7 linked regions of the Homo sapiens genome follow. The protein of the gene in region 7 purifies or fractionates together with the protein of the main gene of each other region. This does not show direct contact. Each region holds a gene or a part of one and is shown on either strand. Other genes may lie near its edges. The genes, in order: DNAJC16, POMT1, PRRC2B, TTYH3, CLPTM1, CALD1 and SLC6A16.

Region 1 (4,470 bases), on a different chromosome or scaffold from region 7:
TTGAGATGGAGTCTTGCTCTGTCGCCCAGGCTGGAGAGTGTAGTGGTGTGATCTCGGCTCACTGTAACTCCGCCTCCTGAGTTCAAACCATTCTCCTGCCTCAGCCTCCCAAGTAGCTGGGATTATAGGCGTGCACCACCTCACCCAACTAGTTTTTGTATTTTTAGTAGAGACGGGTTTTCACTATGTTGGCCAGGCTGGTCTCAAACTCCTGACCTCAAGTGATCCGCCTGCCTCAGCCCCCCAAAGTGCTGGGATTATAGGCGTGAGCCACTGTTCCTGGCCGGCAGGGCCTTTTAGAAACTATTTGTCCTAGTTCTTCCAGTATAGGGAGGGCTGGTCAAATCTCTCTCAGGCCAGAGGCCACTGAGCCTCATTCTGAACGGCTTCCTTTGCAAGGTTCCAATGGAAAGTTTAGCTATTCATTCTCCCAAAAATATTTACTGAGCACTTAGTATATGTCAGGTAATATAGACAATATTATTGCCCTCATGGAGCTTATATTCCAGTGGGGAAGACAGAAAACAGATATATTATGACAGGTATCAACAAGTGCTATATATTAAAAAAAAAAAAAAAGATGAAAAGGGGACAGAGAGAGGCCAGAGTGGGTAGAAGCCAGGCTCCATCAGACAGGTTGGTCAGGGAAGTGCCAACTGAAAAGGTGACATTGTTATGACAGGAAATGGGGTCAGAGCATCCCAGGTAGAGAGACTACAAGTGCAAAGACCCCAGGATGGGGAGTGACTGGATCTGATTTGCATTTTCAAACATTATTGGCTGACGTGTGGACATCTGCCTGGAGGGTACAAGAGTGGAATGGAGCAGAGAGACTAGTTAGAAGGCTGCCAGGGGGGTCTCGCTGGGAGACGATGGTGGCTTGTTCCAGGGTGGCAGTGGTTAAAAAAAGTGAGAAGTGTGTGGATTTGGGATATTTTTTGAAGGCTGTGTAAACAACAATCCTTACAGTCCAGGATATTCTTTTTTTATATTTAAGTCATTTTTTTCTTCGCTCTTAAGACTATAAAGGAATCTGAAAAGCCTAGACACACAGGGAAATTATGTTTTATATTTTCAAGTTACATGATTGATATGTTTTCCTTCCATATCCAGATACCTTTTACAGATGAAACAGCCCTAAATTTAAAGCTACTGATTCATTCACCTGAGAAGGTGTAATGAATACATTCCCTGAATTTCTAGACTTTTTAGATACTTTGTATAATAACTCTTCCTACTTTATTGAATACATGTAACTTAGCCTTCCCGATTCCCACCAATCCATTTCCTCAATACTCTGTACTTCCCTACTGTTTAATTGTTATCCTTGCTCCTTCCCAAGACCTCCAAAGACTCACCCTGTGTGGAATGCTTTAGTAGGGACAGTCACTCTTCCATATTCTGTGCTTCTGTAAAGTGACCCAGTCTATCCCAGACGCCTGGCTAAACTGTGCTCATCCTTCAGGTCTCAGCTGAAATGTTACATCTTAGGGAAATCTTCTCTGACCACTAGGACAGGCTGGCACATCTGACAATTTGGTGCTAAAGTGCCCTGGACTAATACATCATATTAGTATGATTACCATCACAGTCACTAATCAGTGTTTTTTTTTTTTTTTTTTTTGAGACAGAGTTTCACTCTTGTTGCCCAGGCTGGAGTGCAATGGCATGATCTCGGCTCACCGCAACCTCTGCCTCCCAGGTTCAAGTGATTCTCCTGCCTCAGCCTCCCTAGTAGCTGGGATTACAGGCATAAGCCACCATGCCCGGCTAATTTTGTATTTTTAGTAGAGATGGGGTTTCTCCATGTTGGTCAGGCTGGTCTTGAACTCCGGACCTCAGATGATCCGCCCTCCTCGGCCTCCCAAAGTGCTGGGATTACAGGCATGAGCCACCATGCCCGGCCCAGTATTTGTTAAATGAAGAATAAGTTCTCAATGTTACAGGGCAGATGTCTAGTCACCCTATAGTAAAATGAATCATGATCCTTCTATTGTAATAACAAGCAGAGGCAAAGCCTTAAGTCCTTACTTCCTCTGTCGATGCGACCGTTTCACAGGGCAGAGTTCATGGAACAACTTCTGGCTGGTGAGCCTGGCTGCCAATAGATATTTGTTTCGGGTGATGAAGTCGTCAATGATTTGCTTCTTCATACCTCGGGCCTAGAGAAAAACCAAGAATCAGCTAGATTTTATGCAGTGTTCTCAATGCAAATAGATGGGCTTTCTTTACTTACCAGCTTAATAAAAACGTAGCTGACCTTGGCTAAAGTAATATAACCAAACAAGACAGACCTGTTTGAGCGAATAAACATGTGGTGATCTATTTCAGCAATGCAGGGCTGAAAGCAATGATGCAGCTATTTCGGGTCAAAGGGAAAATCAAGTACACTTTCCACTGGAGAATTTTTATTCACTGTTTTATGCTGACAAATTAAAAAAGTCAGTCATGGCCGGACGTGGTGGCTCACATCTGAAATCCTAGAACTTTGGGAGGCTGAGGTGGGTAGATCACGAGGTCAGGAGTTTGAGACCAGCCTGGCCAACATAGTGAAACCCCGTCTCTGCTAAAAATACAGAAATTAGCCAGGCATGGTGACGTGTGTCTGTAGTCCCAGCTACTTGGAAGGCTGAGGCAAGAGAATCAGTTGAACCTGGGAGACGGAGGTTGCAGTGAGCCGAGATCACGCCACTGCACTTTAGCCTGGGCGACAGAGCGAGACTCCATCTCAAAAACAAAACAAAACCAAACACAAAACAAAACAAAAACCCAAAACGAAAAGTCAATCATTTTGAATTTTAGGCAAAATTATTTCCATTCAGGATTTGTAGCGAACTGGGCAATTAAAAATAAATCCCAAAGCAACAATGTTGCAAAGTATAAAAGGCAGGTTACAAAACCGTGTGACCATTTTATTGCTAACTTTCACACATTTCAAAGGATTGAAATCATTGACAGCAGGTATTCTGACCACAAGGTAATTAACCTAGAATTCCATTTAAAATGCAAACCAGAAATGTAAACATTTCCCTTTATGTTTGGAAATTAAGAAACACGGCCAGGTATGGAGGCTCATTCCTCTAACCCAAATGCTTTGGGAGGCCAAGGCAAGAGGATCCCTTGAACCCAAGAGTTAGAGACCAGCCTGTGCAACATGGAGAGATCCCATCTCTACAAAAAATTAAAAACAAACAAACAAAAGGCCAGGCACAGTGGCTCACTCCTATAATCCCCGAACTTTGGGAGGCCGAAGCAGGAGGATTGCTTGAGCTTAGAAGATCGAGACCAGCCTGGGCAACATAATGAGATCTTGTCTCTACTAAAAATAAAAAAACATTAGCCAGGCATGATGGTGGTGCATGCCTGCAATCCCAGCTACCTGGGAGGTGGAGGTGGGAGGACTGCTTGAGCCCAAGACTTAAGAGACTGCAGTGAGCTAGGATCACACCACTGGACTCTAGCCTGTGTGACAGACTGAGACCCTGTCTCAAGAAAAAAAAAAAAAAAAAAAAAAAAGGGCTGGGTATGGTGGCTCATGCCTGTAATCCCAGCACTTTGGGAAGTCAAGGCAGGTGGATCACTTGAGGTCAGGAGTTCAAGACCAGCCTGTGCAACATAGTGAAACCCTGTCTCTACTAAAAGTACAAAAATTAGCCAGGCGTGGCCTTAGTCCCAGCTACTCAGGAGGCTGAGGCAGGAGGACTGCTTGAGGCTGGGAGAGCATACCAGCCTGGGCAACGGGAGTGAAACCCTGTCTCATAAAAGAAAAAAAAGGAAAAAAAAAGTTGTTAGCTGGGCATGGTGGCATGTGCCTGTAGTCCCAGCTACTTGGGAGGTTGAAGGGTGAGGATCACTTGAGCATAGGAGGCCAAGGCTGCAGTGAGCCATGATGACATCACTACACTCCAGCCTGGGTGACAGAGCAAGACTGACTAAAAAAGAAAAAAAAAAAACCAAAACAAGAACGCCTATCAGATATTAGAAAATATTTTGAACTTTAATGACTGATGAAAAATACTATTTATAAGAACTCTGAGATACATATAAAGTAGTACTTGAAGGGGAATTTTACAATTAACATAATAGAAAAGAAGTTAATGAAATAAACATCTGTCAAGTCAAAAACAGCAAAAATATAAAAGTAGAAAGGAAATAATACAGATAAAAATAGAAATTAATGAAACAAGAAATGAATATATTAATATAAGAAGAAGAATTAACAAAGACAAAACTGGTTCTTTGAAAAAGCTAATACAATCGACAAGCCTCTGGTAAAACCAACCATGAAAACAAAAGAGAAGGCATAAAATAATCATTCTCAAAGATGACAAGAAGGAATCACTACCTACAATGCAGAAGTTAAAACAGAAAACCTAAATAATCAGTAGTCAAAAATCTTTCCTTAAAGCGAAACCCAGAAACCCAAGCTCAAGGCCCAAATGGCATTACAGATGCTTTCAATCAAACTTT
Region 2 (4,470 bases), on a different chromosome or scaffold from region 7:
ACAGAAATGGAGTTAACATGAGACAGGAAAACATAAGGAGATGGAGGAGGACACTGCCCAAGACCAGAGGCTCAAACTCACCCCACTGCACAGGAACAAGCGACCCCTGTCAGTGTTAGCCAGAACCACCAGCTCAGAGAAAAAGGGCTGGAATAAAAACAAAGCAGATGGAGACAGAAATAGTTCAGACACATTTCCAAAAGGCTAGTGAAGCTCCACATTCTTCAGAGAAATCTTTCTGGGTCGGCTGGCCATGCTGAGCCACAGGGGCAGTAAGAAAGAATTCCCATCTCCCAAAGTATCCATCCCAGCAGAATTTTTCTTTTTGCCCAGAAAATGTTGTCCTGTTAGTTTAAATTATAGAAAAATGAAGATGTATTTATGAAGTCACAAGCCAAGGGCCAACCCCCAAAATATTAGAGGACCAAAAGATATCTAGCACTAGGCGCAGAGGCTCACACCTGTAATCCCCACACTTTGGGAGGCCAAGACGGGTAGATCACCTGAGGTCAGGAGTTTGAGACCAGCCTGGCCAATATGGTGAAACCCCGTCTCCACTAAAAATACTAAAATTAGCCAGACATGGTGCTGTGTGCCTGTAATCTCAGCTACTCGGGAGACTGAGGCTGGAGAATTGCTTGAACCTGGGAAGCGGAGGTTGCAGTGAGCCGAGATTGCGCCATTACACTCCAGCCTGGGTGACAGGGACTCCGTCTCAAAAAAAAAGATATTTAGCAAGCAACTCCTCAAAATGAAAAGGTACTGTCTCACAAAACGAAACAAAAAAAGGTACTGGACCATCTCAGATCAACAAACCACCCAGAATCTCTGTTCTCGTTAACTAGGAAGACACTCCATTTTCCATACCTGTGCTTTTGGCAGTTGAAGAACTTCAGGTAGGACAACACGGCCAATAGATTGAAAAATATTAACACTGATTCCAAAAGCATTAGCCTTGACTGAGTGATGAGAGCATTCTCTGTTTCAAAGAGGAAACACATGTCAATTTTAAGGTAGCAAGGGAAAACGTATGAGGATGAAAAACACTCATGAAAAAAGGCATTACTTCAGAAGCGATACAACTGTGTGGGGCTGTTGTGAATGTTAAAACATTCTATAGACACAAGGCCTCATACAGTCATCACCCAATACACATCTCTTTTGATTTTCTACTGTCTCTTTCTTTTCTTTGAGTCAGGGTCTTGCTCTGTCGCCCAGGCTGGAGTGCAGTGGCACCATCATGGCTCACTGCAGCTTTGACCACCAGGGCTCAAGGGATCCTCCTGCCTCAGGCTCCTGAGTAGCTGGGACTATAGGCGCATGCCACCACACCTGGCTAATTTTATTTATTTATTTTTTTGAGACAGAGTCTTGTTCTGTCACCAGGCTGGAGTGCAGTGGTACAATCTCGGCTCACTGCAACCTCCGCCTCCCGGGTTCAAGCGATTCTCCTGCCTCAGCCTCCTGAGTAGCTGGGACAAAAGGTGGGTGCCACCATGCCCAGCTAATTTTTGTATTTTTAGTAGAGATGGGGTTTCACCATGTTGGCCCGGATGGTCTCGATCTCTTGACCTTGTGATCCACCCGCCTCAGCCTCCCAAAGTGCTGGGATTACAGGTGTGAGCCACCGTGCCCGGCTTATTTATTTTTTTTGAGATGGAGTCTTGCTCTGTTGCCCAGGCTGGAGTGCAGTGGCGCAGTCTTGGCTCACTGCCACCTCCACCTCCCAGGTTCAAGCAATTCTCCTGCCTCAGCCTCCCAAGTAGCTGGGATTACAGGCACCTGCCACCACACCCAGCTAATTTTTTGTATTTTTCGTTATTTTTAGACAGGGTTTCACCATGTTGGCCAGGCTGGTCTCAAACTCCTGACCTCGTGATCTGCCCGCCTCAGCCTTCCAAAGTGCTGGGATTATAGGTGTGAGCCACTGCGCCCAGCCTAATCTAACTTTTCATCTGCTTTAATTTCATCTGTTCATAAACGTGAGCTGGAAGACCCTCTCTGAAGAGGATCCACTGACTCACGAGTCCATCTCAATTGGCCAAGGCCTGGGAGGTGGTGGAACAAGGGGAAGTTATCATTTGGTCACAAGATTGGTTGGAGATGGAGGTGCCCACGTGTGCATGGACTTTGCAGCAGCATCTGGGCAGTTTTCTACTGCCATACCCCGACTGCTGATAAGAGTCTGATCCCACAATTCAGCAATCCCATAACCACGGGGTCAGCCTGGGAGCGGGTGACTTGCAGCGTCAAATTTGGATGAACCAGATGCACTTTCTGGTGCAGCTCGCCCACCAAGCCCATGTGATCTTCCGGGCCAAAGGGTCAGTTCTTCCCTGCATGACAGCAAGAGCAGGCAGGGGCGCAGGTCTTACCGATAAGCATCAACAGAGCAGCTCCCATGGCGGCACAATGAGAAAAGTGGAGCTCCAACACTATCTGGTAGGCCATGGGGACCGACAAGGCCCCCGCGAGTGCTGGCAGCAGGCGCAGGGACCACACAGGCACGTTGCTACTGTATTCTGGAAAAGCAACCACACTGCAGAGCTGACTACACTGTGCACACACCATCTCTGTGTACTGCAGCTATGCTTTCACATAGCGCCGTCATGTTCACAGACTCTAAAATGCACGTTTACAAAACTGGGGACCCCATCAGCAGCAGAGTGCATAAACTATGGGTGAAGGCTTTGAAATTAGCTTTGCATAGTCATGGAACCCGATCTCATGAAGCATAGACAGGACTAAGGATTCTAAAATTTACCGCCTTACTTATACATATTTACCCTCCCTGTTTTCTTTTTTCTTTTTTTTTTTTTCTCTGAGACGGAGTCTTGCTCTGTCCCCCAGGCCGGAGTGCAGTGGCGCCATCTCATCTCACTGCAAGCTCCGCCTCCCGGGTTCACGCCCTTCTCCTGCCTCAGCCTCCCGAGTTGCTGGGACTACAGGCGCCCGCCACCACGCCCGGCTAATTTTTGTATTTTTAGTAGAGACGGGGTTTCACCATGTTAGCCATAATGGTCTCGATCTCCTGACCTCATGATCCACCCGTCTCAGCCTCCCAAAGTGCCAGGATTACAGGCGTGAGCCAGCGCGCCCGGCCTACCCTCCCTATTTTCAAAAACATTGTGGCAATGGACAAAATTCACATGTACAACCGATCATCACAATCAGACGCTCTGTGATACGTGTACCAACGACAAGGGCTGAAATAATGACTGCAACTGAACAGTAAGATTTTAACCAGACTTTCCAGAAGTCTTTCATTTGTATCCAACCAATTTATTATTTTCTGGACTCAGATTAATAAGGCACAGTTTCTGTGGGACTAGGTATGAAAGGAAAAAAAAAGCCACAGTTGTTAATCCTTACAAAAGTCACAATCTCTTCATTCTAACCTGCGCACATTAAAAGGGAAATGAAAATTATCTTTTACCTGCTCCAATTCTGTTCCACAAAAAATTGCCATCGAATCCTCCTAAATAACCTGAAACAGAAGATTAATCAGTAACTATCCCATTCAGCAAATATTTCTAGAGTACTGTGGCAAGCAATAAACAAGATGCATCAATAATAAGACCTGGTTTCTGCCTGTAAGAAATGCACTGATAAGTTTTAAATGTATTTGAGGTCCTGAAGGGTAGGGGCTACTCTCCTGATGACTCCTACCTCCCAAGGCCAGCACCATGTGGCCAAATGGCGGCCCACTGTCATCCAAGAAGAAGATTTGTTTCATGTAAAAAGAGATGTACTGCCCATAATATACTTCGTCAAAACTAGAAAAAAAAACAACAACCCATATTATATTCAATTAGAATCTTAACTGTAAACAAAAACTGTGAGGATAAATGTGTATGTGTTTCCAAATGACTTTGAGTGAGTGATCAGCAAAGGCTGGATCTTTTGCCCCAATTGTTTCCCATCCCCAAATATTAAGATGCATACAGCATCACCCACCCACAGAGACATGGGGAATTCACCAAGCACAGCTGGCACTCAGCATGCCTGCCCATACAGATTCTGTCTCTCCCTTGTGTTTGATTTAGGTGGATACTATGAGCCAACCTGCTGAAAGACCTCCTGGGACGCAAGGCTAATCCTGCTTACCCACCTACCCAACCCCCCCACCCCCGCCCCCACCAGCAGCACATGTCTGTGGCTAGCGATGACCCAATGAAACGGCTGCAAGTATGAAAGGAAAACGTGGGAATCAACTGCAATAACATGTTTTCAATCAGGGAGAGGTGAAGATAACCAAGAAACTGCTGTCAATTTCTCAGGCATGATAATGCAACTGTGGTTATGTGATTTTTGTTTTTAAGAATCCTCAGCCAGGCACGGTGGCTCACGCCTGTAATCCCAGCACTTTGGGAGGCCAAGGTAGGTGGATCACAAGGTCAGGAGTTCAAGATCAGCTTGGCCAACATGGTGAAACCCCTTCTCTACTAAAAATACAAAAATGAGCCAGGC
Region 3 (3,774 bases), on a different chromosome or scaffold from region 7:
ACAAGCAGCCGCTTGCAGTGGGAGAAGGAAAAGCAGACAAGAAGCTCAGGTAGGGAATGCCTGGAACTGTCGGGTGGGCAGCCCCTGGGGAAGGGACTCAAGCATAAAGGCTTGGGATAAAGAGGGAAAAGACCAGGTGAGGGCAGGAGGGGAGCTGCTGAAAGATGCAGGTGAACAGTAAAGCACCTTTCAGTAAAACTGCCCTTTCCCAGGCAGCTCTGGGGTGGGCGCTGTTGGTAGGAGGCCGTTCTCCCGCTTCCTTAGAATTGTGAGAGCAGTAAGAAGTTACTTCAGCAGTTCCTAAGATGCTCCTTCCCCATGTTCTACACTAGACACAGAGCTTAGAGCCCAAGCCTGAGCGCTGTCCTGCACCCGTGAGACGCTGAAGGCAGCCTCTGGTGGGGGGTGCATCCCCGGCCCCCTCCTCTAGGTGTTCTGAGCCAGCCTCCTCTGGAGGAGGAGGTAGACGCTCAGTGACCCCTAAGAACAGCTGAGAAACCTGAACTGTCCCCTTCCCTTTCCTTGGAATGACAGAATCTGGAGTGATTTCCTTGTTTCTTACTTAAAAACAAGCCCAGCACACGATGGCTCACACAAGCCTCTGGCTGGAGAAGCTGCCCTCCCGGAGGCTGCGCAGGCCCTTTGGACCTTGGTCAGCCCTCCACCCAGCCTCACCCTGGACCTGCCCCCGCCGTCTGAAGACAAACGAGACTGATGCCTACTGCTTAGCTCAGGCCCTCCTGTCCTGACAACCTGGGTCTGCTGCTGGGAGTGAAGCAAAGGAGGAAAAGGACAAACTCCCAGTGGCCTCACTTGGGGACCACACACGGGTCCACTCCCTCCATCACCAAGTGGTGTTCACGATGAGCTGTGTGGGAGGTGGAGACAGGTCCAGAGAAAGCAGCAGGCTCCGGAAGAGGAAGGAAGGAAAATGACAGGTTACAGAAGGCTTCAGGGAAAGAAATGTGTGAAAAACACAGCACCCCTGCAGGGCAGGGTATGGAGCCCCAGAAGCAGAGCCCACGGGGCCTGGGATGGGCCTGTGGTATGTCAGCTCACCCCATCTGGGCCAACCTGGGAGCCACCAGCAGCCATCTCCATGATTTGTCTCTGGTGCCCAGCACATCCACTGGCTTTAGAGGAGCCCAGGACAGGGACCCTGTGTGATTCTCATGCTAAAACTGTCATCAACTTCATGGGCTGCCTGTAAGCGCCCTGGGCTCATCAAGCCAGGAGCTGGAACCCAACTATGACCCCCCCCCTCCCCCAACCTGCCTGCTGCTCTGAGCACCCCATCGCTTCCCAGGCGGGGAGCCAGGCACCAGAATGCTCGCAATCGGTGCCCTCAAGAACCTCCTTTTCTTTTTGCAAATAACCTCAAGGGTGAACCAGCTGAGGAATCAGGAGGGGATGCATTCTTAAGAGTCACCTCTTAAGGTACTGCAGTGACGTATCAAACTAAACAGGACAGAGGCTAGAGATGGAAGGGAGCGGAGGGGCTGGCAAGAAACATATAAAAGTTCAGCTATACACATGGAGCTTGCGTTTTTGTTTTCTTTTCCTTTCCCCTTTGTAAAAACCTTGGCTACATTTTAAAACAAAAAGCCTCAAAGTAAAATGACCCTGCTGCCAAATCACTGTGCCTAGGGATGGGCGGCTGGGCCGGAAGCACTGCTGAGAAGGCGCCCTGGCTGCGCGGCAGGACAGGGAGGAGGCAGGGAGGGCAAATCTGCACTGCACAGGAGGCGTCACTCCACAGTCACGGTAGGAGCAGATGGGATGAAGGAGTCGTCTGCTTTTTTGTTTCGTATCAAAGCAAGCGGGTCAATGCCATATATCCACGGGTGCAAGCTGGTTGACAACGGAGCTTTCGGGAGTGGAGAGGAGGGAGGTCTCTCAGTCTGGGCCACGCATTTGGACGGTGGATCTGGTGAGGCTCCCGAGTGTCGGCTGTGTCGAGGCCGCATGGCGGCACCGTCCTCAGTAGGGAGAGGCGAGGTGGCAGCCAGGCACTGTCAGGCCTTACTCTCCTCCACTTTGACAGCCCGAGGCTTGATCGCTCCGGTTCGCTTCATCTGGGAGGCAGCCGAGGGGGCCTCCTGCAGCTTCACGGCTCCCAGGCTGGGTTTCTCATCCACTCGTTGTTTTGCCTTTGGACAGATGAATGGGAAAAACAAAGTGACCCTGACGCTGAAACGTGTTTGGATACATAGTTCCCACCACTCCCTTCCTGCTCCTGAGTTGCAGGGAAAGCTCCCCTAAGTTGTCAGTCCCTTGGTTGAAGGACCAGACTTAGAAACCCCCCTCCTAGTAAGGAAAGTGGCGCGAGTGCCGTCTCTGCTCCCTCCCCATAAGCCCTGAGTGCAGTGATTCGGAGAGGCAGGAAGACACCGGGTCCTCCACAAAGAATTCCGCGATGGCACATCCCAGGGCGGAAGCAGTTCTGGTCCCAAGGCCAACTGGAAGAACCTTTTCAAATCAGTGCACCTCCTGCCCCACAGGCAAAAAAGGCCCCTTCAAGTAGATCCAAGTGCCCCCTGCACGTCTCGGAGCCCCCGACTGTCTGCTGGGGCCCTAGGCAGACTTGGCCCCCACAGATCTCTGGCCGCGATTCAGCCAACCCCCCCACCATTCCCACTCTGTAACCTTTCCCTGGGGCCCCATTCCTAGTCAGGGCTCCCCTGGTCTGTGGCTCTACACGGGGAGTGGGGTGGGGAAGTCACAGAGCAGCCAGCGCATCTGCCCCCCACCAGGTCTGAACTCTGGAAGAAAGCTTTAGAAGCTCATTCCACACAACTTTCATGACCCCTAGGGGAACCAATGAGAGCAATCACTTCCCATCTCTACCAGCCAGGCACAGTGACTGATTAAAAACCCACGTCTGAGGGGCTTAAGCTCTGAGCCCCAGCACGTTTTAGAGAATAGAGAAGAGAATAGTGCGTGCAGGAAAAGACACTGCGATGTCCTTTTCATTATAAAATGGGAAAACTTAATTTCACCTGTGCTCCCACCCAGCCAAGACAAAGATGAGACACACCACTGACTAGAACCAGCGCGCGCACCCCGGCTCCTAAAGCCGACCCCCAAACCTAACCGAGTCTCCCAGGGCGCCTCAGCCCCGACCTGCCAGGGCTGGTCCACCTTCCAGCACCACCTCCTCAGAGGAATCAGCATCCTCCCTTCTCTGCAGGACAAGGAAGGATCCAGACGCCCGTCAAGAGGAGAAATGCCTTCGCCAGGAGGGACGCGGGCGGCCCAGCTCCCGGTTCTGTGCTCTAACCGCTAGGGCATGGCTGTCTTTAGACAGGGGGCGCTCAGATAGGTTGGACAGTCCCTTCTCTTTTGGCGCTTGGAGACGGGCCTAAGTGTCCAGGGCTGAAGGGTCTGGAAAGCCATCTTCTACCTGTTGCACGTAGTGTCCCTGCACAGAGCCCATGTTAACTGCTGATCCAGAGGGCTTCCCACTGGGGCTAGCAGAGCTAGGCCTGAAAAAACCAAAGGCAGGGGTTGAGAATACACAACGTGTCACCACAGAAATGGAGTCAAAGCCTAGCACATGGAGGAGGCACAAGGAAGGAAGGGCCTGCGGCCAGAGGCGCTCACTCGGGACGGTCCGTGGATCTCTTGGATGGAAAACAACCACAGACCTAAGACAGCCCAGAACGCAGAAGGGTGAGGGGGTGGCTGTCACTGACCACCCTGGCACCTCCAGGACAGAGCTCAAGGAGACGCACCGCAAGAGAGGGAGGCTGAGGCCCTGTACAGATGGGCATG
Region 4 (4,470 bases), on a different chromosome or scaffold from region 7:
GACAGCCAGTCAGCAGCCCCCAGGCCAGGGTGGGGGCCGTGCCACCTGCTGGGCTGCAGGCCAGAAGGCAGGTCCCAGTGCACATCAGGGGTCAGCCCACACATGGGCTGGGGCTCTTCCTGTGGCCTGGCCTCAGCCAGAGCTGCCCACAGCCCAGGGCCCAGATGGATCCCTCTCCTAGGTGGGGTGGGGCTCAGAGATCTGAGCTGGAAGCAGGACTGGAGGGCCACGTGGCTCTTGGGGCCCCGCCCCTCCTGTCCCCCAGGTCCCTCTCCTGAACAGGCAACAGTGTCCACTTTCACGTGGGTCCCCGCATCCCGCCGCCCACGTAGCAGCCCAAGGGGCCTGATAACGTCAGCTAGATCAAGCCCTCCTGTGCTGAACCCTCGCTCAGCAACTGGGGACTCAGAGCTCTTGCTACGGCACTGGCCTCTCCCTCATCTGAGGCCTCACCTCACCCACATCTGGCTCCCTTTGATCCAGATACACAGGCCTCCTGTGCATACCCCACTGCAGGTGCCCCCACCACGAGTCCCCCATATCCCAGTTCAGATCCCCAAAACACACCCCAGTGCAGGCCCCACACCCCACTGCGGGCCCCACACCCCACTGCGGGCCCCACACCCCACTGCGGGCCCCACACCCCACTGCAGGCCTGCACACCCCACTGAGGACCCCACAACCCACTGCACACTGTCATCCTTCCTGTCTGTCCAGGCGTCCCTTACTCCCTTGGGCCCCTGCTCAATCCCTCCTCGCTCAGGTCTCCTTGGGCACAGCGTGAAGCTGCACCCCCCCCCACCACCCTACTGCAGGCCTTCACACCACCCCGGCTTTTCCTCTCCAGGGTGCTATCACCTCTGGCCCATGCCACGTTTCCCTCATTCTGCTCCTCTGTGGCCTGTGAGTGCCACGTGGGGGGAGGCTGTGTGTTCTCCCATCTCTCCCAGGCCTGGCCCAGGGAGGCACCAGCCATGGCTGTGCAGCTGCGTGGTGAAGGGCAGTGACAACACCTTACCTCCCACAGAGGAGCTGCCGCTCTCTCTGCCTTCCAAACGAGGAGACCAAGGCCCAGCAACAATAAGCCACCTGCCCAAGGTCACCCTCCTAGTGAGCCGGAGCTGGGGCTGGAACCCAGGCTGCCCCAGGGCCAAGGATGGAAGGGGTGGAGGAAGGAGCCCCAGCCTGGTCTCTGGGTGGCCCCAGGCACTCGGAGACCTGGGCAGGTTGCTTCAGGTCCTGGGCTACAAGTGCCCCACGTGCAGACTCTTGCAGGAAATCAAGGGCTGGGGGCAAGTGTGCTGGGATGCTGGCCACAGGGGCACAGGCCACAGGCACAGAAGGGGCATCTCAGAGCAGGCCCAGTGCAGGGGGGTCCCGCTCAGCCCCCACCGCAGAGCTTGTGGCTAGGATCTGCAGATGAGGTGGGGGAAGGGGTAACATGGTGCCTTGCCCTGCCCCTCCGCTTTGGGCCCACGGGGGGCCGACACCCCCAGACTCACCCCACCAGGATGCCCTTGGAGCTGCGGATGAGGCCAACCAGCACCAGGAGGCAGATGATGACGTCCAGCAGCAGCAGGCCCAGGTAGCCCAGCCACCTGCAGGCAAACCTGGGAGTGCGCCAGGGCACAGGGACCCGGGGCCTGGGAGTGGGGCGCCAGGGGCCCTTGAGGGGGAGCTGAGGCCAGCAGCCTGGCACCCCAGAGGGCATTCAGAGCGTCTGGGTCATGGGGACTGGTGTCAGTTCTTGAGAAAGGCTCCCATTAGGGGAACTCCAGCCACTGCCTGTGACCTCCAGTGGCCCTGGGCCACACCCTGCCCATCAGGCCTCATGTACTAGGTGCTGAGAGCAAAAATTGGCCCAAGGAGGGTGATGCTTTCCCACGTGGGGCGGGCAGGGAAGAGGGCCTGGCCGCACCTGTACCAGTCGTAGAGATCCACCTGCTCCGCCAGCACCTCCAGCGACACCGCCGTGTTCCTCCAAAAGGGGATGGCGGCCGTGTAGCCCAGCAGCGTCTCCAGCAGGCCCTGCAGCCTCTGTACGGCTCGCAGGGGCTCGGGCCGCCCGGCCAGCTGCCGCTCCAGGGTCTGCAGGCTGGGCTCCGCCGTGTGGTTCAGCCCCACCGCCGTGTCCCACACCTGCGCCGGACCCGCGGGCGTGAGGCTGGGAGCGCGCCCGCCTCGCCCCAGAGTCTGGGCCCCTCCTGCACAGCCCCAGTCCCGGCTGCCCCGCCCGTCCTCGCGCAGACGTGGGGCTCCGGAGCAGCAAGAGTGCTCCTGGCCCCAACTCCGCGGCCACTCACGCGGTCCTGGACCCCGGCCACCGTGCGGTTGGCGTGGCGGAGCGAGTAGGTGGCCCTATGGATGCCATCACTGGTCTCCCCGTTGCCGTAGAATCCCACTGCGATGCCGGCGCTGGAGAGGGCGGGCCCGTGAGATGTAGCCCCGCCCACCCACACACACCCCACTCCAGCCCCGCCCCCTCGGGCCGCCCCCTCTGGCCCCGCCCTCCGTCCCCGCCCCACCGCGCTCACCTGCACACCAGCGTGGCGATGATGACACACCAGGCCGTGCAGCAGCAGTCGGCGTCCAGGTGCTCCTCGCTCTTGCGCCGCCGGCAGCACAGCCAGAAGGAGTAGAAGAGCAGGAAGAGGAGGTCCAGGGCGAGGCAGGCCAGGGCGGCGGCCCCCAGGAGCAGCAGGGCCTGAGGGCAGGCAGGAAGCGGCGCTGGAGGGGTGGACCCCCAGCTCAGAGTCCCACGCCCCGCCCCAGCAGGGGACCTGGCGCAGACTCCCATTTAATCCTGCCCCCAGCCCTGGGAGGTGGGCCCCATCCCCGACTTGTAGGTGAGGCATGGAGTCTCCCACCACCTCAGTGATGCACCTGGGGTCACCCAGGCCTGGACCCCACACCTGGGACCCCGGTCTCGCCATCCTCAAGGCTGCACAGCATGAAGACTCCATAGCCACTAGGAGGGGCCGGGTGAACCGACTCCAGGCTTCTGTGGCTCCAGCAAGGGCACATGTCCCCTCCCCACCGGGTCCCCAGAGTCCAGGGCAGGTGCTCAGGACGTCTGCCCCACCAGGCCCCAAGGAGAGGCGCTGGATGGAGGTAGCCAGAGAATGTGGGTGACAAACGAGGACGCTGCTGGTGAGCCACCATCTTTGCAGCCACAGCCCCACTAGGGAGGTCCCTCCACCTCTCCGAGCCTGGTTTATCTTCTGTAGAAAGAAGTGCTGCTGAGCAGGGCAGGGTGGCTCACGCCTGTAATCCCAGCACTTTGGGAGGCCGAGGCGGGCGGATCACCTGAGGTCAGGAGTTTGAGACCAGCCTGGCCAACGTGGCGAAACCCCATCTCTACTAAAAGTACAAAAATTAGCCAGGCCTGGTGGCGGGTGCCTGTAATCCCAGCTACTCAGGAGGCTGAGGCAGGAGGATCACTTGAACCCGGGTGGCGGAGGTTGCAGTGAGCCGAGATTGCACCACTGCACTCCAGCCTGGGCGACAAGAGCGAGACACTGTCTAAAAAAAAAAAAAGTGCTGCTGCTCCCCCGAAGAAGCGAAGCCCTGGGGAGGGGGCTGCCGGCATCAGCTACTGTCCTCACCCCCAGCCCGAGACAGCCCCAGGACCCCAGAGCCCGTCCCCGTCTCAGGCCCAGAACTCTCCTACCTGAGTCCTGGCAGGATCCCCCACCCCAGCTGTAGTCCTGAGGTTTTCAGGTCTGGTAGGGAAATTGGGAGCCTGTGGGGGACTGAACCCCCTCTTGCTGACCATGAAAGTGTTTCTGAGGGGTGAACATGGAAGAGGCCCCATCAGGAGTCTGATCCTGTCTGGGGTCTGTGCACCGAGAAGCTGCACTCAGGGGTGGGCACCGTCCATGGCGTGCCCCCACGCTGGATGAGATGGTGGGGCTGGCCCCACACTGCTACAGGCTGCATACAGGCGCCCCATCGGACACACAGCCCTGTCTGGCTCCAAGCACGGCCTTCCAGTGTGGCTCTCCCCAGGTCTCTGAACACAAAAGACAGACCACAGAACAGACACCAGAGCTCCCCTGTCCCGAGGCCAGGCGACCCCCACAGGAAGTGGCTAATTTGATGCAACAGTGACATTTCCTCAGCACCCGCTGCGGGGAGGGAGGGTAACGTGGCCCCAGAGCTGTCCCTTCTCCTGGCACTGCATTCGATCTGCCTGGCCGAGTGCTCTCACCCCATTTCATCCACAGGGAAACTGGGCTTCATAGAAGCTACAGAGAAAGCACACAGGCCCTGCAACCCCAGGTCCCTGGATTCAGCATAGCCCTGCCCCCGGCTCAGCCCTCCAGAACCTCCACACACTTCCTGTGCCGGGGGAGGGATGGGGAGCTGATACAGGGCTGCGCCTCATCATGGGGCCAGGGACCACCTAGAGGCTAACTTGGGGGTGCCCTGGGGGGTGTCAGCAGCTGGGGCCCTCAGTGTTGTGGGGTG
Region 5 (4,470 bases), 4.3 Mb from region 7:
GCCAGCAACCCTGATACTGGATGGTGCAGCTCTAGAAGATTTTCCTCCAAGAAAGGGGGGCTTTTTCCTCCCCACAGGAGCCAGGTCCATCTGGTCTGGATGCCTCCAAGCTGCAGAATGTGTTCTTTGCCTGAGCCAAAGCCTCTCTCCCCTGTGCCTCCCCCTCCACCAGCCAGCGCTGCCCTCTGGGGCTCTCCCTTCCCTGGACAGTCTCTGTCAGGTGTGGACACGATTGGGGCATGTCCCCCTGGAATTTTCTCCAAGTCAACCCTTGAGTGTTGGTTTCTCCCCCTGGACACAGGAGGAAGATCCCCAATGATTTAATAATCATAGAAATGATGAGGATTGGCCAGGTGGCTCAAGCCTGTAGTCCCAGCAATTTGAGAGGCCGAGGCAGGTGGATCACTTGAGGTTAGAATTTGAGACCAGCCTGGCCAACATGGTTAAACTCCGTCTCTACTAAAAATACAAAAATTGCTGGTCATGGTGGTGGATGCCTGTAATCCCGGCTACTCGGGAGGCTGAGGCAGGAGAATTGCTTGAACCTAGGAGGCAGAGGTTACAGTGAGCTGAAGTCATGCCACTGCTCTCTAGCCTGGGCAACAGAGTGAGACTCCATCTCAAAAAAAAAAAAAAAATGAGGATGACGTTTCTGCTAATAAGCAGTAGGCCCTGGGCCAAGAAGTGGTGAGGCTTTTCTTCCTTCTTTAGGGAAGTGACATCACTCACCAGCATCCCTTAGCTTGTAGGATTCAGAGCCAAGATTGCCCCCAGAGCCCCCGCTGTTGGCCAGGTCTCTTTCCCCTTTCCCTGTCTCTCCCTGGCCCCAGGGGACAGGATAGAGACTTGAGGGAGGGCAGACTGAGTTTTCCTTCATAGCATAAGGAAGAGCTGAAAAGTCCCCGGGCTCAGTGGCTCACGCCTGTCATCCCAGCACTTTGGGAGACTGAGGTGGGCAGATCACGAGGCCAGGAGATTGAGACCAGCCTGGGCAACATGGTGACACCCTGTCTCTACTAAAAATACAAAATTAGCCGGGCGTGGTGGTACACGCCTGTAGTCCCAGCTACCCAGGAGGCTGAGGTGGGAGAATAGCTGGAACCTGGGAGTCGGAGGTTGCAGTGAGCCAAGATCACACCACTGCACTGCAGCTTGGATGACAGAGCGAGACTCTGTCTCAAAAAAAAAAAAAAAAAAAAAAAAAAAAGAAAAGAAAAAAGAAAAATACTTAGCTTCTTTTCGGGCCAGGTGCGGCAGCTCACACCTGTAATCCCAGCACTTTGGGAGGCCAAGGTGGGCAGATCACGAGATCAGGAGATTGAGACAATCCTGGCTAACACAGTGAAACCCTGTCTTTACTAAAAATACAAAAAATTAGCAGAGCCTGGTGGCACACGCCTGTAATCCCAGCTACTTGAGAGGCTGAGGCAGGAGAATTGCTTGAACCCAGGAGGCGGAGGTTGCAGTGAGCCGAGATTGTGCCACTGCACTCCAGCCTGGGTGACAGAGCGAGACTCTGTCTCCAGAAAAAAAACAGAAACGTCCCCAGGCCAGGGCAGAGGTTGGGAGATGGAGCGTGGGCACGCACAAGCCCCTTCCTCCCCGGCAGCATTTGGGACAACATGGCAGGGGGCCTGTGGCCAACTGGGCCTCTGCGAGAGGAAGTGAGGCCAACTCCTGGCTGGGGATTCACAGCCTCAAAGTGTTTCTCATCTTGGTTTCTCATGTTGGTGGCTTCAGGCCTTTTTTGGAACCGTCTGCTGCCTCTTTATAGTCATGTATTCAACTGGTCATCACCGAGCCTGTGCAGGCGCCCCATGTGTATTCAAACAGGCCCTGCCCCTACCCGCATTTCCGCACAGAGTTTGCAGACTGGTTGCAGGGACAGACAGCAGGCAGGTAAACCACTGGCTAAGTGGTTTTGGATAGTGGTGAAATGTTGTGAAGGAAACAAGCTGGCAGGAGAATGACTGCATAGGCTCATTCAGTGGGGTGGCCAGGGAAGCCCTGTGGAAGAAGGACATTCTGCCAGGGACTTGAATGCCACGGAGGAGCCAGGCCACGAAGATTGTGTCAGGGCATGGGTTCCTGGGACACGGGGCAGCACGCCTGAAGGCCCCGGGTTGGCATGTTTGAGAAGTGGAAGGTGGTGAGGGTTGAGAGGTCACCGGGGCTACGGTGAGTGTCTGGGGTTCCAAAGCTGCGGGATGCCATGATCAGTCACTTGTTTTTATTTATTTGTTTGTTTGTTTTCTTTTTCTTTTTGAAACGGAGTTTCGCTCTTGTTGCCCAGGCTGGAGTGCAACAGTGCGATCTCAGCTTCCTGTAACCTCCACCTCCCTAGTTCAAGCGATTCTCCTGCCTCAGCCTTCCGAGTAGCTGGGATTACAGGCACCCGCCACCACATCCGGCTGATTTTTGTATTTTTATTAGAGACGGGGGGTTTCACCATGCTGGCCAGGCTGGTCTCTAACTCCTGACCTCAGGGGATCTGCCCGCCCCAGCCTCCCAAAGTGCTGGGATTACAGTGCCCTACTGAGCTGGGGTTTCTGCCTGGGGCATTTGGTGATGGTGGCGTCCCCATGATCATGAGGAACTGGGATTCGTTGAGATTTGGGGAGGCAGTTCTGGCATTCCAGGTCACATTGATCTCAGCAGGTGAGTGCAAGGTGGATGCCAGGAGACCGTGAGCCGTTGCTGGTGGGCAGGGGTCCGGGCTCTGGAGGCTGCAGGTGCCAGCAGGTCTCACGTCCCCTCCTTTCCCACCTCCCAACCACAGTGATCAACAAATACAAGCGCAGACGATTTCAGAAAACCAAGAACCTGCTGACAGGAGAGACAGAAGCGGACCCAGAAATGATCAAGGTAAATGGGCAGGGTTGTCAGGGCCTATAGGGACCAAGCCAGGCCATTCACAGCTCATCCCAGACCACTGGGGCTGTCATCTGTCACCACCACTGAACCACCATGCCGGCTCGGTCATGCCACCTCCCCTCCCTGAGCACTGGGCTCCTCCTCTGGGAAATGGGGTCAGGAGGCAGCTGTCTCTCAGGGAGTGAGGAGGATCCCAGACAAGGTTACCTGAGCCTCTTGCCAGCCTGGGAGGGGTCTACATCACAGTCCCATTGTCACATGAGGACACTTGCTCAGTCTCAGCCGGAAGTGGCAGGCCAGGGACTCTCACCCACACAGCCAGGCCCCAGAGCCCAAGCTCAGCCTGGCTCCAAGCACACACACGAGAATATGGCTTTAGTAGGAACTGCAGGATTCATAGTTGCTGTCACTCCCAGTGGGCTGGGGAGCCGGGCAGTTAATCTGTGGTTAACCTGCAGTGGGCACTAAGAGACTTCCTCTCTCTGCGGGTGGTCCTGTGTTGGGGGGGTGGTCCCTGCTCATGGAGCTGAGGCCACCGTGCAAGAGTGTGTGGAGCCTGCTGTCATGAGGCTGGGCTTCGCAGCCTGGCCTAGGATGCCAGCCCTGCCTCTACCTCTACCTCGGTTTTCTACATGTGGGGTGGGAGGATCCTGTCGGTGGCCGGAAGGGTCCTGGGTGGCGGAATCTCTAAGCCTAGGGAGGAGAGCCTTCTGCCAGCAGTTGCTGTGGTGGCTGATATTCTGCTGCCAGGGTTGTCAGGGGAGATGGCTCATGCCTGTTTTCCCAGCATTTTGGGAGGCCGAAGCAGAAGGATCACTTGAGCCCGGAAGTTCAAGATCAGCCCAGGCAGCATAGTGAGACCCCATCTCTTCCAAAAAAGAGAAAAAAGAAAGAAAGAAAAGAAGCTGTCCATGGTGGCTCACGCCTCTAATCCCAGCACTTTGGGAGGCCGAGGTGGGAGGATCGTGCTTGAGCCCAGAATTCGAGACCAGCTTGGGCAGCATAGTGAGACCCCATCTCAGAAAAAAAAGAAAGCAAAGATTAAGATTTTCTCGGGAACCCTGGGGAGGAAGTGTACAGAGAGTGATAGTCCCCGAGCACTTCCACCTGCCTCTGAGGTCCTTCCCCCCATGTTGCCTCAGAGGGCTGAGGACTATGGGCCTGTGGAGGTGATCTCCCATTGGCACCCCAACATCACCATCAACATCGTGGACGACCACACGCCGTGGGTGAAGGGCAGTGTGCCCCCTCCCCTGGATCAATGTAAGCTCCCCAGCCCTGCCAGCTGCCTGCAGAGCCTTTGAGAGGGTGCTCGGGGTCCATCTCCTTGTCTTCTCCTGGCCCTGTCCCCCTGAGAGAGCTTTCCAGGGCTCCACCCTCCCAAGCTCCCACCCTGTCCTATCCCCTTCCCATGTCCTCTCCCTCTCCCACACCACCACCCCTGGGGACCCCAGGACTGACTTCTACACGCCAGCATCGGTCCGCAATCAAGTGCCATCCAGCCCACAAACTGTTTTCAAAAAATGTCTTATCACTTGCCAGCTTTTGAAATTGAGGCAGTATCACTTAAAAGCCACAATTTCTGGCTTATTTTAT
Region 6 (4,470 bases), on a different chromosome or scaffold from region 7:
TAACTACAGTTCTATTTCTGTCTCTATGAATTTGACTACTTTAGATCCCTCATATAAGTGGAATCACACAATATTTGTATGATTTCCGTGATTGGCTTATTTCACTTAGCATAGTATCTTCAAGGTTTATCCATGTTGTAACAGGTAACAAGATCTCCTTCCTTTTTTTTTTTTTTCTCTTTTTTTCTTACAGACAGAGTCTCGCTTTGTTGCCCAGGCTGGAGTGCAGTGGCACAATCTCGGCTCACTGCAACCCCTGCCTCCTGGGCTCAAGCAATTCTCCTGCCTCAGCCTCCAGAGTAGCTGGGACCACAGGCACACGCCGCCACGCCCGGCTAATTTTTTTTTTTTTGTATTTTAGTAGAGACAGGGTTTCACTGTGTTGCCCAGGCTGTCTTAAACTCCTGAGCTCAGGCAATCCGCCCGCCTCGGCCTCCCAAAGTGCTAGGATTACAGGCGTGAGCCACTGCACCCGGCCTCTCCTTCCTTTTTAAGGCTGAATAATATTCCATGGTATGGCTAGACCACCTTTTATTTATCCATTCCTGCTATGATGGACACTTGGGTTGCGTCCATCTCTTGGTCCTTGTAAATAATGCTGCTATGAACACGGGTATACAAATGTCTCTTCAAGACCTTGCTTTCCATTCTTTTAGAAGTGTATCAGAAGTGGGATTGCTGGATCACGTGGTAGTTCTCTTGTTGATTTTTTGAGGAACCTCCATACTGTTTCCATAGCAGCTGCACAACTTTACAATCCCATTTTACAGTGCATATTTGTCCCATTTTACAGCTGAGGAAACGAAGCACAAGTGGAAGAGCAGAGGCTCCTGGACTCTGTGATTCCGGGCAGACCCCTTCCCCAGCCTACCCCCTGGGCTAATGAGAGGCAGTGGGTATTTAGTCGGGGATGCAGAAGCCGCAGACCGACCTCCCCTTCCTCCAGGGAGACTACAGGCAAAAGCATGTAAACCCCTTTCCATTGCCCCCCAACCACAGCCGCCCTGGAGGGAGGGCCAGCGTGGACACCAAGGAGGCTGAGGGCGCCCCCCAGGTGGAAGCCGGCAAAAGGCTGGAGGAGCTTCGTCGTCGTCGCGGGGAGACCGAGAGCGAAGAGTTCGAGAAGCTCAAACAGAAGCAGCAGGAGGCGGCTTTGGAGCTGGAGGAACTCAAGAAAAAGAGGGAGGAGAGAAGGAAGGTCCTGGAGGAGGAAGAGCAGAGGAGGAAGCAGGAGGAAGCCGATCGAAAACTCAGAGAGGAGGTAAGGCGGGCGCTAGCCCACTGAGAACGTTGCCCGGGAAAATTCCCTAGTGCCGTGCGGCTGTTCTTTTGAGCATGGGCTCTCAAAAATATTTTTTTAAGAATAATAAACTTACCATGTGCTAGGTACTGTTTTATAACTTGTAGATGTATTAATTTGTCCACTGCTTCTAAGAACTCGCTGACCTAGGTACTAATCCCCATTTTACAGATGAGAAAACTGAGGCACAGAGAGGTTTTGTTTTTGTTTTTGTTTTTGTTTGTAACTTTCCCAAGGTCTCCCTTGAGTCTGCCTGACATGCAGGAGGAGCCCCATCATTAAAACCCTTTACTGCCTCTCAAAAAGGAAAAGTTAGAAAGCTGAAAAGGATGAAAGGTCTGCAAATTAGTTACCAGAATGAAGTTATGGTTTTCTAATAGTTGGAGAGTTTTTATAGAGAAGATTTTTTTAAATCTTTTTTTTTTTTTAATGAGCAAGTAAGTACATTAGAATATAAAGAGGCAGGGACAGTATCTGCGTTGTTCATTACTGTATACCCAGGACCCCATACCGTGCCTGACATGCAGGAAGAGCCCCATCATTATAAACAGATGGATTTGTTTCATCTTTTAAGACAGAGCTAAAAACAGCAGATAGAGTTACAAGGAGGAACATTTTGGCTCAGCATATGAAATAATGTTTAACCAACTACAACTTACAGTACTACAGTTTACAAAGTGCATTCTTTCATTTCATCCTGAGGTACATCGTTCTCATTTTATGGGCAAAGAAACCAGGAATCAAATAGTTTGAGTGACTTATTTGAAGATTCTTGACTAATAAATGGTAGAATCAGTAAGGAGACCCCGCTTTTCCAACTCAGAGCCCAGAGCTTTTGAGATAGCGATCTCCCATCATTCAAAATATGAAGAAAAAAAAAGACTTTCAATGGCATTTTGACAAGGATCCTATGCAAAATTTTCCTGAACTGTATGGAAAATTTGGATACATTATTTTGAGGTCTCTTTTAACTCCAACTTTCAATGAGCCAATGACCTTTGGTTGGGAAGTATGGGAAGTAATCAGGATGATAGAGTTTGGGGGTTAAACACACCCCAGGCTTTTTTTTTTTTATTGTTTTTTTAGACATAGTCTTGCTCTGTCACCCAGGCTGGAGTGCAGGAATGCAGTGGTGCAATCTCGGAACACACCCAGTCTTCTATCCTAACTCTGTCACTAACAAGCTGGGGCCTTGGGAAAACTGGACTACTCTGTGTCTTCTTTTCCTTATCTGTGAAATAATATCTACTTTGCAGGATTCTTCCAATAATTTAATAGATCATTGTGCTCCCAGTGCCTGGCACATTCTAGGCACTCAAAAATTAGTAGGTATCATTATTGCCATCATTGTTATTATGATTATTATTCAGAGGAGGAGAGTATCAGGAAAGGCTGAAGAGAAATCACGAAGTCTTAGAACTGGATTGGACCTAGGAGATTATTTGGGCTAAACTACCAAACACAGGATCCTTCTGTGACATCCTCTGACAGATGAACATCTAGTCTCTGCTTGAGAACATGCAGTGATAATGATCTCACAGCTTAAGAACTACCAAAGACTGCATTAAATCTCTCAGAAAATCAAGTTGTGCAACTTGATCAGAGCCCTGATAGAGAAGACAGAGTATTCTAGACTAGGAATGAAGACACAGAGGGGTTAATGAGACAGTCTGTAAACATTTGCAATTGCACTACCATGGTTCAACGTCTAGAGCATTTCAGGTTTGTCAAACCATCTAAAATTATATATTCACTTGAAGCGGGGAGCAACCATAAAATCACCTCTTGTACCATCTGGCAAATATAGTACCACAGATTTAGATAGCTTTTCACATAAGTTATTCATTTGTCTTCACAACTCTCCTAGGATGTAGGTAGAAGGAATATTCATATCCCTTTTACATATACAGAAGTGTGAGGTCATTGTTAATGACCCACAGGATGGTGGTGATTATGTATCATCCTATGGGAAATCATCATAATGAGTGTTAGTCTAAGCCAGGGGTGTCCAATCTTTTGGCTTCCCTGGGTCACATTGGAAGAAGAATTGCCTTGGGCCACACATAAAATACACTAACACTAATGATCGCTGATGAGCCAAAAAAAAAAAAAATCACAAAAAGGTCTCATAATGTTTTAAGAAAGTTTACGAATTTGTGTTAGGCTACATTCAAAGCCATCCTGGGCATGATGTGGCCCCTGGGCCATGGGTTGGACAAGTTTGGTGTAAGCATTTTACATGTGCTATCTCACTGAGCCCTCACGAAAGCCCTAAAAAATGAGTACTATTGTTATCCCTGTTTTACAGATGAAGAAACTGAGCCACAGAGCAGATAAATAACATGGCCAAGGTCAGGCAGTTGGAAAGTAGCAGCACCAGAATGCAAATGCAGGCAGCTCGACTCCAGCTCTCAGGCTAAACCTCTGGTGACCACCTAGAAGGGGAGTGTCCAGCCTGCGGCCTGAGTCTGCTGCCTCTCCAACTGTGCTCTCTCTCCTACAGCACTCTTCCCTTTGGCTGTGAAGCTGGTACTGATGCCTCGTTATTTGTTCTTTCTCTCTTAGGAAGAGAAGAGGAGGCTAAAGGAAGAGATTGAAAGGCGAAGAGCAGAAGCTGCTGAGAAACGCCAGAAGATGCCAGAAGATGGCTTGTCAGATGACAAGAAACCATTCAAGTGTTTCACTCCTAAAGGTTCATCTCTCAAGGTATTTTTTTCCCCAGAAAACTTCTATTAGAATATGATAGAGACTGGATTTTAGCCCCTTGTTTAGTTATTGATTATACAGGGCCTTTGTTCATTTATCTTTTTGCTATCCTTCCAAGTTAATCTGTTCAGGCTGCTATAACAAAATACTTTAGACTGGGGCCAGGCACGGTGGCTCATGCCTGTAATCCCAGCACTTTGGGAGGCAGATGTGGGCAGATCACCTGAGGTCAGGAGTTCGAGACCAGCCTGGCCACCGTGGTGAAACCCCATCTCTACCAAAAATTCAAAAACTAGCCGGACGTGGTGGCACACACCTGTAATAATCTCAGCTACTTGGGAGGCTTAGGCAGGAGAATCACTTGAACCCAGGAGGCAGAGGTTGCAGTGAGCTAAGATAATGCCACTGCACTCTAGCCTGGGCAACAGAGCAAGATTCCATCTCAAAATTTATCACTCACAGTT
Region 7 (4,470 bases):
TTAAAGTGGCATAAACTAGCTCTAGTTCTAGTAGTAGGACTACTTTAGACCTGAAAAAAAAAAATTCTTAAAAGCAACCCTTAAACAGCCAAAACTGATCTTCAAGTAACTTAACTGCCTGTCACAACAAAGGCCAACATTCCTTAAGATAATACAGACAAACCTAGCACTGAACAACAAAAAATTCATAATGTCAACCATCTAGTCAAAAATTACTAGACATGCAAAAAAGCAGGAAAAGTGACCCATAATCAGACAACAAAAACAGAAATGATAGACTAATGGAATTAACACACCATAACACTAAAATAGCTGTTACAAATATGCTTAATATGGTCAAGGACTTAAAAGGAAAACATGAACAGAATGAGGAATATAAGATAGCTAGATAGCTAGCTAGCTAGACAGACAGATAGATATTTTCTCTTTTGAGACAGAGTCTCACTCTGTTGCCCACACTGATCTCAGCTCACTGCAGCCTCTGCCTCCAAGTTTCAAGCAATTCTCCTTCCTCAGCCTCCCAAGTAGCTGGAATTACAGGTGTGCACCACCACAACTGGCTATTTTTTTTTTTTTTTTTTTTTTTTAGTAGAGACAGGGTTTTGCCATGTTGGCCAGGCTGGTCTCGAACTCCTGATCTCATGTGATCCAGCTACCATGGCCTCCCAAAGTGCTGGGATTACAGGCATGAGCCTCCATGCCTAGCCATGATATATTTTAAACATCAAATAGAACTTCTAGAGATGATACAACACCTGAAATGAAAATTTCACTGAAGATTACTGGCAGATTTTAATAAATCAGTGAACTTAAAGATATAGCAATAGAAACAATCCAAAATGAAGCACAAAGAAAAAAAAAAGACTGAAAACAATTACCAGAGCATTAGTGACTGTGAGACAATATCAAATGGCCTAAAATGTGTAACTGGAGGTCCAAAATAAAGGGAGGATGGGAAAATGAAACCAGGCCAATTTTCCAACAAGCCAGATGCCCATAGAACTGAAGCTTGAGAAACTTACATTTGTACAATGAGATGAACCTGCTGTATGTTGACCAAGTACTCTTCTTTACTCCTCCCTAATTCCTTCATATATGTGTGTGTGTATATATATATATTTGTATATACATATAAATACATATACATATACATATGTGTATATGTGTATATGTATATACATATACTTATACATATATGTGTATATGTGTATATGTATATACATATACCTATACGATATATACATATACATATATATATCAAGAAAAGACTCACATAATTGAAAGGATAAAAGGACAGTTCTACAATAATAACTGGAGACTTTAATACCCCACTACGAACAATGGACAGAAGCAGCAGACAGAAGATAAGCAAGGAAATAGAGGACTTAACACAATAAACCAACCAGATCTAACAGATGTATTCAGAACACTCTAGCCAACAGCAGCAGAATACACATTCTTCTCAAGTGCACATGGGACATTTTCCAGGAGAGACCACAAATTTGTAGGCCACAAATTTCCTTTTTTTCTCAATAGAATTAGAATGATAAATATCATACAAAATATCTTCTCCAGCCACAATAGGATGAAGTTAGAAATGAATCACAAAAGTAAAATTGAAAATTTTACAAATTTGTAGAAATTAAACAACACACTCTTAAACAACCAATGGATCAAAGAATAAACTACAAGGGGAGTTAGAAAATACTTACAGATAAATGAAAACGAAAACACACATACTAAAATTTATGGGAGGCAACAAAAGCAATGCCAAGGGGGAAATTTATAACTATCAATGGTTACATTAAAAAACAAAAAAGAGGCCGGATGCAGTGGCTCACGCCTGTAATCCCAGCACTTTGGGAGGCTGAGGTGGGTGGATCATTTGAGGTCAGGAGTTCAAGACCAGCTTGACCTACATAGTGAAACCCCATCTCTATTAAAATACAAAAATTAGCTAGGCATGGTGGTGGGCGCCTGTAATCCCAGCTACTCAGGAGGCTGAGGCAGGAGAATCGCTTGAACCTAGGAGGCGGAGGTTGCAGTGAGCCGAGATCACACCACTGCACTCCAGCCTGGGCAACAGAGCAAGACTCCCTCTAAAAACAAACAAACAAACAAACAAAAAAAAACCAGATCTTGAATCAATAACCTAACTCTAAAACTTAAGAAACTAGAAAAGCAAACTAAACCCAAAGCTAGCAGAAGAAAATAATAAAAATTAAAGCAGAAATGAATAGAGAATAGAAAAACAATAGAGAAGCCAAAAGTTGTTTCTTTAAAAATATCAACAAAATTGACAAACCTTTAACTAGATGTACTAAGAAAAAAAGAGAAGACTCAAATGATTAAAACCAGAAATGAAAATGGGGACATTATTACCAATTCTACAGAAATAGAAGGATTATAAGAGAGTACTATGAACTTATGAACAACTGTACACCAATAAACTGGATAACCTAGATTAAATGGACAAATTCCTAGAAATACAAATCTACTAAGACTAAATCACAAACAGAAAATCTGAATAGATCTATAACTAGTAAGGAGATTGAATTGGTAATCAAAAATCTCTCAACAAAGAAAAGCTCTGGACCTGATGGCTTCATGGGTGAATTCTACTAAACCTTTAATGAATTAATATCAATCCTTCTCAAACTTTTCCAAAAAATTGGAGAGGAGGGAACACTTCCTCATTCATCCTATAAGGCCAACATTGCCCTAATACCAGAGCCATACAAAGACATTATAAGAAAAGAACACTACAGACCTATATTCATTATGAACTTTGATGCAAAAATCCTCAAAAAAAATACTACCAAACCTAATTCAGCAGCATATTAAAAGGATTATATACCATGACCAAGTGGGATTTATTCCTGGAATGCAAGGATGGTTCTGCATACAAAAATCAATCAATATAATATACCACATTAACAAAATGAAAGAAAAATAATGATTCTCTCAACTGATGCAGAAAAAACATTTGACAAAACTCAATACCCTTTCATGATAAAAAAAAAAAAAAAAACTCAACAATCTAGGAGTTAAAGGAAAATACGGCTGGGCATGGTGACTCATGCCTGTAATCCCAACACTTTGGGAGGCCTGATGACCACTTGAACCCAGGAGTTCAAGACCAGCCTGGGGCCAGGTGCAGTGGCTCACATCTGTAATCCCAGCACTTTGGGAGGCCAAGGCGGGTGGATCACCTGAGGTCAGGAGTTCAAGACCAGCCTGGCTAACATGGTGAAACCTGATCTCTACTAAAAATACAAAAATTAGTCAGATGTGGTGGTGTGCACCTGTAGTCCCAGCTACTTGGGAGGCTAAGGCTGGAGAATCGCTTGAACCTGGGAGGCAGAGGTTGCAGTGAGCCAAGATCATACCACTGCACTCCAGCCTGGGTGACAGAGCAAGACTCCATCTCAAAAACAAACAAACAAACAAACAAACAAAATTTTTAATTACCTGGGTGTGTTGATGTACTTCTGTAGTCCTAGCTACTCATGAGGCTGAGATGGGAGAATCACTTCAGCCCAGGAGGTCAACGCTACAGTGAGCCATGATGACACCACTACACTCCAGCCTGGGTCACAAAGTGACACCATGTCTCAGCAAAAAAAAAAAAAGGAAAATATCCCAACATAATAGCCATATACGAAAAACTCACAGCAAATGTCATACTTAATGATAAAAGACTGTAAGCTTTTCCTCTAAGATTAGAAACAAGCGTAGAATGTCTAATTTTGCCACTTTTATTCAACATAGTACTGGAAGTCCTAGCCAGAGAAATTAGGCAAAAATATAAATAAATAAAAGGAAACCAAACTAGAAAGATTATATGATCTTATACGTAGAAAATCCTAAAATTTTCACCAAAAAAATTTTTGAGCTAATAAATGAATTCAGCAAAGTAGCAGGATACAAAGTCAACAATCAAAACTCAGTTGCATTTTTATACACTAACAATGAACAATCTGAAAAGAAAATTATGAAAACAATTCCATTTGTAATAGCATCAGAAAGAATAAAATACTTAAGAATTAACTTGGCTGGGCACGGTGGCTCAAGCCTGTAATCCCAGCACTTTGGGAGGCCAAAGTGGGCAGATCACCTGAGGTCAGGAGTTCGAGACCAGCCTGACGAACATGGAGAAAACCCGTTTCCATTACCAAGTTACCCAGGCATGGTGGCACATGCCTGTAATCCCAGCTACTCAGGAGGCTGAGGCAGGAGAATCACTTGAACCTGGGAGGCAGAGGTTGCAGTGAGCCGAGATTGCACCATTGCACTCCAACCTGGGCAACAAGAGTGAAACTCCATCTCAAAAAAAAAAAAAAAAAGAATTAACCAAGAAGGTGAAAGACATGTACAAAGAAAACTACAAAACATTGCTGAAAAAAATTAAAGGAGACATAAATAAATGGAAAAATATCCCATGTTCATGGGTTGGAAGACAACACTGTT

The links.
Region 1: the proteins of SLC6A16 (region 7) and DNAJC16 purify together in Homo sapiens (affinity purification with mass spectrometry; one large-scale study listed by BioGRID and IntAct). This does not show direct contact.
Region 2: the proteins of SLC6A16 (region 7) and POMT1 purify together in Homo sapiens (affinity purification with mass spectrometry; one large-scale study listed by BioGRID and IntAct). This does not show direct contact.
Region 3: the proteins of SLC6A16 (region 7) and PRRC2B purify together in Homo sapiens (affinity purification with mass spectrometry; one large-scale study listed by BioGRID and IntAct). This does not show direct contact.
Region 4: the proteins of SLC6A16 (region 7) and TTYH3 purify together in Homo sapiens (affinity purification with mass spectrometry; one large-scale study listed by BioGRID and IntAct). This does not show direct contact.
Region 5: the proteins of SLC6A16 (region 7) and CLPTM1 purify together in Homo sapiens (affinity purification with mass spectrometry; one large-scale study listed by BioGRID and IntAct). This does not show direct contact.
Region 6: the proteins of SLC6A16 (region 7) and CALD1 purify together in Homo sapiens (affinity purification with mass spectrometry; one large-scale study listed by BioGRID and IntAct). This does not show direct contact.

The regions. Positions count from the first base shown.
Region 1 is NC_000001.11:15,557,218-15,561,687, reverse strand, and holds part of DNAJC16 (dnaJ homolog subfamily C member 16 isoform 1 precursor), read right to left. Parts: intron 2,163-4,470; coding exon 2,032-2,162; intron 1-2,031. UniProt on the Homo sapiens protein: Plays an important role in regulating the size of autophagosomes during the formation process.
Region 2 is NC_000009.12:131,505,420-131,509,889, reverse strand, and holds part of POMT1 (protein O-mannosyl-transferase 1), read right to left. Parts: intron 3,777-4,470; coding exon 3,670-3,776; intron 3,488-3,669; coding exon 3,437-3,487; intron 2,540-3,436; coding exon of another isoform or gene 2,523-2,539; coding exon 2,376-2,522; intron 980-2,375; coding exon 868-979; intron 148-867; coding exon 82-147; intron 1-81. UniProt on the Homo sapiens protein: Transfers mannosyl residues to the hydroxyl group of serine or threonine residues. Coexpression of both POMT1 and POMT2 is necessary for enzyme activity, expression of either POMT1 or POMT2 alone is insufficient.
Region 3 is NC_000009.12:131,494,116-131,497,889, reverse strand, and holds part of PRRC2B (protein PRRC2B), read right to left. Parts: intron 3,486-3,774; coding exon 3,404-3,485; intron 2,151-3,403; coding exon 2,016-2,150; 3' UTR 1-2,015.
Region 4 is NC_000007.14:2,645,087-2,649,556, reverse strand, and holds part of TTYH3 (protein tweety homolog 3), read right to left. Parts: intron 2,705-4,470; coding exon 2,535-2,704; intron 2,416-2,534; coding exon 2,304-2,415; intron 2,140-2,303; coding exon 1,919-2,139; intron 1,599-1,918; coding exon 1,503-1,598; intron 1-1,502. UniProt on the Homo sapiens protein: Calcium-independent, swelling-dependent volume-regulated anion channel (VRAC-swell) which plays a pivotal role in the process of regulatory volume decrease (RVD) in the brain through the efflux of anions like chloride and organic osmolytes like glutamate.
Region 5 is NC_000019.10:44,982,439-44,986,908, forward strand, and holds part of CLPTM1 (putative lipid scramblase CLPTM1), read left to right. Parts: intron 1-2,779; coding exon 2,780-2,865; intron 2,866-4,016; coding exon 4,017-4,137; intron 4,138-4,470. UniProt on the Homo sapiens protein: Involved in GABAergic but not glutamatergic transmission. Binds and traps GABAA receptors in the endoplasmic reticulum (ER).
Region 6 is NC_000007.14:134,946,509-134,950,978, forward strand, and holds part of CALD1 (caldesmon), read left to right. Parts: intron 1-999; coding exon 1,000-1,261; intron 1,262-3,865; coding exon 3,866-4,006; intron 4,007-4,470. UniProt on the Homo sapiens protein: Actin- and myosin-binding protein implicated in the regulation of actomyosin interactions in smooth muscle and nonmuscle cells (could act as a bridge between myosin and actin filaments).
Region 7 is NC_000019.10:49,318,306-49,322,775, forward strand, and holds part of SLC6A16 (orphan sodium- and chloride-dependent neurotransmitter transporter NTT5), read right to left. Parts: intron 1-4,470.